2 linked regions of the Homo sapiens genome follow. The protein of the gene in region 2 purifies or fractionates together with the protein of the main gene of each other region. This does not show direct contact. Each region holds a gene or a part of one and is shown on either strand. Other genes may lie near its edges.

What was found.
Region 1: the proteins of DDX59 (region 2) and ARG2 purify together in Homo sapiens (affinity purification with mass spectrometry; one large-scale study listed by BioGRID and IntAct). This does not show direct contact.

What each region holds. Positions count from the first base shown.
Region 1 is NC_000014.9:67,627,419-67,630,022, reverse strand, and holds part of ARG2 (arginase-2, mitochondrial precursor), read right to left. Parts: exon of another isoform or gene 683-2,604; intron 1-682. UniProt on the Homo sapiens protein: May play a role in the regulation of extra-urea cycle arginine metabolism and also in down-regulation of nitric oxide synthesis. Extrahepatic arginase functions to regulate L-arginine bioavailability to nitric oxid synthase (NOS).
Region 2 is NC_000001.11:200,667,548-200,671,474, forward strand, and holds the start of DDX59 (probable ATP-dependent RNA helicase DDX59), read right to left. Parts: upstream 2,361-3,927; 5' UTR 2,220-2,360; exon of another isoform or gene 1,067-2,219; intron 219-1,066; exon of another isoform or gene 1-218.

The sequences.
Region 1 (2,604 bases), on a different chromosome or scaffold from region 2:
GACACTGAGAACGAGGGCTCTTCAGAAGCTGGAGGTGAAGATCATGCATTTAGGATGATTTTTTAAAGATTTTTGAAACTATTTATATTTTTGTCTTACAAATGATCACTTTTAAGTGGACTTTCTGTAAGAATGTACAACTCAAAAATTTGCCAAGTATCTATCGGATCCACACAAATCCTTAGAAAGGTTTTCTGTGTAGTCTTCACTAACGCAAGTCCTTGGGAATGTTTCACTTTTACTGTAGGATCTTGAACACATTTCACAATAATGAAACTATAAAGTTTTTATGCAGTGCATTCGTTATTAACTATAAATAACATTTCTATTAAAAAAGAAATCTGGGTAGTACAGTTTCTTCCTTTGTAGTAAGAGCCGAGAAGACTGAGAAGTTGATTGGACACTACCATCACTACCATCATCCATCTCCAGAACTCATCTTGCAAAACAAACTCTGTACCCATTAAGCAATAATTAACTCCCCATTTCCTTCTCCCACCAAGTCCTAGTAACTGATATTCCACTTTGTTTTTATAAATTGGACTTCTCTAAAAACTTCATATAAATGGAATCATGCTGTATTTGTCCTTTTGTCACTGGCTTATTTCACTTAGCATAATGTCCTCAAAGTTCACCCATATTGCAGCATATGTCAGGTTTCTTTGTTTTGTTTCTTAAACAGATGAGGCTTTATTCTGTTGTCCATGCTGCCAGACTGGAATGCAGTGGTATGATCATAGCTCACTGCAGCCTCAACCTCCTGGGCTCAAGCAATACTCCTGCCTCAGCCTCCTGAATAGCTAGGACTATGTGCATGCACCACCACACCTGGCTAATTTTTTTCCCCCCACTGTGGAGATTGGGACTCGCTAAGTTGCCCAGGCTGGTCTCAAACTCCTGGACTCAAGCAATCCTCCTGCTTCAGCCTCCCAAAGTGCTGGGATTACAGGCATGAGCCACCCCACCCAGCCCTGCTTTTTGAAGAATGAATGATAGTCCATTATATGTATGTACCACATTTTGGTTGTCCATTCATCCATCAATGGACACTTGGGTTGCTTCCACCTTTTGGCTATTGTTAATACTGCTGTGAACATGGGTACACAACTACTTCAAGATCCTGCTTTCAGTCCTTTTGGGTACATACCCAGAAGTGGAATTGCTAAATCATATAGTAATTCTATTTTTAATTTTTAGAGGAGTTGCCATACCGTTTTCCATAGCAGCTCCATTTTATGTTCCTACCAACAGTGTAAAAGAGTTTCAATTTCTCCACATCTTCATCAACACTTCTTATTTTCTGTTTTGATAGTAGCCATCCTAATGGCTGAGGTGGTCAAAATTTGCTTTTTACAAATTATGAAAATGGGATAATAGCAAATGCCTAGCACAGTGTCTAGAAGATGGTAAATGTTAAGTATCAAAAAACTTTTGATAAGAGGTATTAAGTTAAATAAGAGGTATTAAGTTAAAATCTTTGCTGTCATAAATGGGAAATATACGGCTACATTGAAATTTGCCAAATCCCAATAGTGTCTATTATAGATTTCCCTCTATGCAGGCACATCACTAAGTTTTTACTAAGGCATTAGCAAATTACTGATTATGTATTCACCTCCTAAAAGGAATCTGCAGCCGAGCACAGTGGTGCACATCTGTAATCCCAGCTATCCTGAAGGCTGAGGCAGGAGGCTTGCTTGAGCCCAGAAGTTTGAGGCAGTAGTGTACTATGATTATGTCTGTGAATAGCCCCCACACTCCAGCCTGGGCAACATAGTGAGACCTATCTATAAAATAAAAGAATCTGCAATATAAAGGAGGCCCAGAAAATGAAAAGCTTGAACCCAAAGAAATAGGTCACTATTAGTGACATTCCAGGTGAGATTGGAGAGGGCCCTAAAGTGATGCCACTTATCAGCTCATGCCTCAGCTCCTATTCCTCTGCTACAGGTGGCCCATCCCCCAAGGGCACTGTGGCACAGATGAGGTCCAAAGCAGGTTTGGTCTTTGCTAGATCTCTAAAGGAAATATAAAGCCAATTTGCTAGACATTTACTCTTCCAAATACATATCAGAGTGACTTTAGAAGTCAAAGAACCCAGAACTTTAATAACCTTAAACAAACAAGCTCATTCCAATAATTTAGCTTCCAGTCACATATGCAGACCCTAGGCAAAGACTTTTTTGTGGGAAATGGGACAGGTGCTGTACTTTCATTTCTTCCTTGCTGTGGAAATAGACTCTTAAAAAATGTAGAGATGGGGTCTTGCTACATTGTCCAGGCTGATCTTAAACTCCTGGCCTCAAGCAATCTTCCCACCTTGGCCTCCCTAAGTGCTGGGCTGACAGGCATGAGCCACTATGCCTTGCTAAGTGTTTAATAGAAGAGTGTGAATGGCAGAGGCAGAAGGTTTGGTGGATCATACAGCCTTACAGTCTCTTCAGAAACATCACTGATATTTGCTGTTGAGTCAACCTAGCAACCAATTCTTGTCCCAAAGATATGACACTGTTCAAAAGGCACCTCAGAGATGCCAGTTTCATCTCTTTTCAATGCCCAAAACTAGAGCTTGAAAAGATGGATATCTATCAACAGACATGATTT
Region 2 (3,927 bases):
TGTACACATGGTCTATTTCCGTTTACTGATTATTTGCACTTTGAAGTATCAGATATTATAGAAATTCTGGGGTAAATCCTTCTATTATAGCATCAAAAAAGAAAACAGGAGAAATACTTCACAATTAGAATCTTTAAAATCAAAGCCACAAATCATAGAGAAAATGCTATTTTCATAAGTAACACTTAGTGTTTATTATATGCCAAGCACAGTGCTTCACCTAATCTTCACAACCATGTAAAGCAGTTAGCATTGCCTAATATATATATATACAGATATTTTTTCATTATGCTATACTAGGTATATTACATAGAGTAATATACACAAGACTAATATACATAGTATAGCATAATGAAAAAATAATATAGTAATATACATAACATAGCATAATGAAAAAACGTGTGTGTGTGTATAAAACACATTATATACACTCAGAAGAAACTGAGCCACTTAGAAATTAAGTGGTTTGGGCTGGGCGCAGTGGCTCACGCCTGTAATCCTAGCACTTTGGGAGGCCGAGGCGGGCGGATCACGAGGTCAGGAGATCAAGACCATCCTGGCTAACACGGTGAAACCCCGTCTCTATTAAAACAAAACAAAACAAAAAAAATTAGCCGGGCGTTGGCGGCAGGCGCCTGTAGTCCCAGCTACTCGGGAGGCTGAGGCAGGAGAATGGCGTGAACCCGGGAAGCGGAGCTTGCAGTGAGCCCAGATCGCGCCACTGCACTCCAGCCTGGGCAACAGAGCAAGACTCCGTCTCAAAAAAAAAAAAAAAGAAAAGAAATTAAGTGGTTTGTCCAAGCTCACACAATTCTTAAGTGTTACAACCCTGGCACTGTGGATCCAGAGCACAAGCTCTCAACCATACGAGGACTAAGCTCTAATTTTTTATCTTACCCAAATTCCTTTCTAAGGGGTCTGGAGAGTCATGCCCTACAAACCATAAATTCTCATCAGATGGGTTTTATTTAACCCTGTATATCGTGACTTACTTTCCAATCTGACTCTGGCCTAACAAGGAAGAAAATAAAAATGTTTTACCCCAAAATATATTTCCTTGTCGTACCTTAAAACTCCCCTGCAAAGTCTCTTGCAGGAAAAATCTGCATTTGGTGAGAATTCCCATCTCCCCTTGTTTTCCCTCCTTCCTTCCCAGATCCAGGAGATAATCAACTAAGAGCCAGGCACCCTTTTAAGTCCAATATAAAACAATTTACAACCTGCTCTCTCTAAAGTCTATCTAAGAGCTTCCTCTGCACAATAAAACTTGGTCTCCACAATCCTTTATCTCTAGCCTGAACATTCCTTTTTATGGATCCCAGGTCTTTAGATAACCTCAACCAGATAACGTTTACATTTACCGATTGAGTTGCCCCGCCTTTCTAAACTAAACCAATGTATTTCTTAAATGTATTTGATGTCTCACGCCTTCCTAAAATAGATAAAACCAAGCTGTACCCCAATTTCCTTGGGCACATGTTCTCAGGACCTCCTGAGGACTGTCACTGGCCATGGTCACTTGAATCTGGCTCAAAATAAATCTCTTCAAATATTTTTCAGAGTTTGATTCTTTTCATCAACCCATATCTATACCTTTTTACACCAAAAACATGTCTTTGCAAAATTACAGTTATTGGGAATAAGGCTTTTAACCTAATCTGGGGACTATCAAATATACTAATAAATATTTTTCTTAAAAAAATTCTTTGTTTAAACTGCCAGATTCCAACTTCCAGAAAAATTCCAACAGAAATGCAACCGAGGGTCTAGAATTACTATCCTAAATCTCCGAAAATGTACAGGGGGTGGCGGGCGGGGCAGGGACGGCTCTAGGTGAGCAGGAAAAAGCTTGGAACTCAGTCTTCCAATGGCGAAAGGGAACGTGCTCCTGCTGGGCGGGACGGCGGACGGCTGGCGGCGGCGCGGCCTCCAATTCTCGCCAACGCGCCCCGCACCCCCGTGCACTGGCGGGCCCTCCCCTCGGGCGTTGCCTCCCACCCACGCCCGGCGGCACCGCACCCCGAGGCGCTTCACGTCACGGAGCTGCTAGGAGACGGGCGGGGCTCCGGTTCCGGGTAGAGGCCTGGGACACGGGGAACTGTAAGGATGGGAGGAAGGCCGCGCAGGGGCACCAGTTCTGCCGCCGCGGCCTAGCGCCCCAGGTCCCGGAGAAGGGGCACCAGGGCGGCCAGGGGCCCAAGCTTCCGGGGCACGCTCACCCGCGCAGGACTGAGGCCGCGTCCGCTCCCGCTCCCGCTCGGGCCGTCTCCCCCTTCCAGGCTCCAGGCCAGGCTTCCGCCCGACAAGCCCTGACCCGCTCGTCAGGACTGCGGCCCGGGGTTGGTGGTGCGGAGCGGAGCGGAGCGGAGCGTAGAGTAGAATCCACTTCCCCGGGTTTTGGGAGGGGGCCGCAGCCCGCTTTCCGGGCGGCGGGGAGGCGGGGCCACCGCGGGGGCGGAGCTCGGCTGGGAGCCGGCAGTGGCTTGGGAGGGAGGGAGGGAGAAGGAGAGGGGCGGGAAGGCTCCTCGCGTTTTCCACGCCCCCGCCCAGCTCTGGGCTGGTGGTAAATCTCGGAACTGGTCCGGGCTGGGCGAGTTCTGGACGGAGGGGCACGTTTGGGAATCCTCTTGGAAGAATTTACGTAATCGAATGGGCTGGGACTGGTGGAAAAGAGTTGGACCGTCCGGAAAGAAGCAGGAGGGCGGCGCGGGGGCCTGGCACCCTTAGAAAGTGGGAAGTGTGAGTGTAAAAGGGAGGGGCACTTCTGCCCGTTGGGCCCAAAAACCCTTTTCTGGCTTTAGCTAGTAGAGCCACTCAAAATTTAAACGGAGTCAGCTTGATGTGGCATATATGATAAGCTGGATAATATTTCCTGCACCACCGCACCCCTCCCCCCACCCCAACACCAACAAGAAAATAACACAAGTCACGGTTCTTGTTCCTTGTGGGCTGACATTTCCCTGTTTTGCCAACCTCTGGAGCCACGTGTCCCAAGCAGCTTGTAGTTGAGAAGTGATGGGGGAGAGGAGACAGCACGGGAGAGGAAGGAGGGAAGCCAGCTTATATTCAGGTGCCTTAAGTATTTAAAAATATTTTCAGTGTAATAGTCGATGCATTCAAAAGAGCATATTTACCAAATATGTAAAATTTAAAGTATGCTAATGAAACTATCACTCCACCACGTTATCAGTATTTAGCATGTATCTATGCATCTCCAGGATTCTACTCCTGGCCTCTTAGCTCACCACCACTATCTTCAGTTTTGTCCCTCTTTGCCATTTTTAGTGGTTTTATCATATTTGGATGCATTCCTGTGTATTGGTGTATTTTTCTTCTTTTTGAGCTTTATAAAAATACATATAGCCTGGAATTCGCTTTTTATCACTCAACATTTGTTTTTTTGGTTCATCCAAGTTGTTACGTGTAGTAACAGAACATTTATTTCTTACTGCCTAGTCAAAAGGAAGTTTTCTCCTGTCAGGAATGTATTCAATACTGTAGCGGATAGGATTATAAATGCACTTTAAGTATTTTCTTTATTGATGGGAACCACACAGACTAAATGTATCAGACTTCCCAAGTTCGTAGGTCACATACCTATAACAGAACTCTTTTCCTGGGTTTTGTGACATTTCTAATTGTTGTAATTTCTTTTGCCATTATAAAAATTAGTCACTTTTGAACCTAATTTGTATTCATCATTCTGAATCTTTTTCTTTAAAAGCCTCCTCTTTTCCAATTATATAAGCTCATACCCCATAAAACCTGAATCTGCCCCTAGTAATTACTAATAAGGCTAGTAGGAGCATTCTTGTTCACCTTCTGTGCATGCGCTGGACTCTAATTTGAACCTAGGATTAGCACTGCGGCATCAGAGGCTATGGGGGCTGTTCAGCTTTCAAAGATAAAGCAGAAATGTTTTCAAAG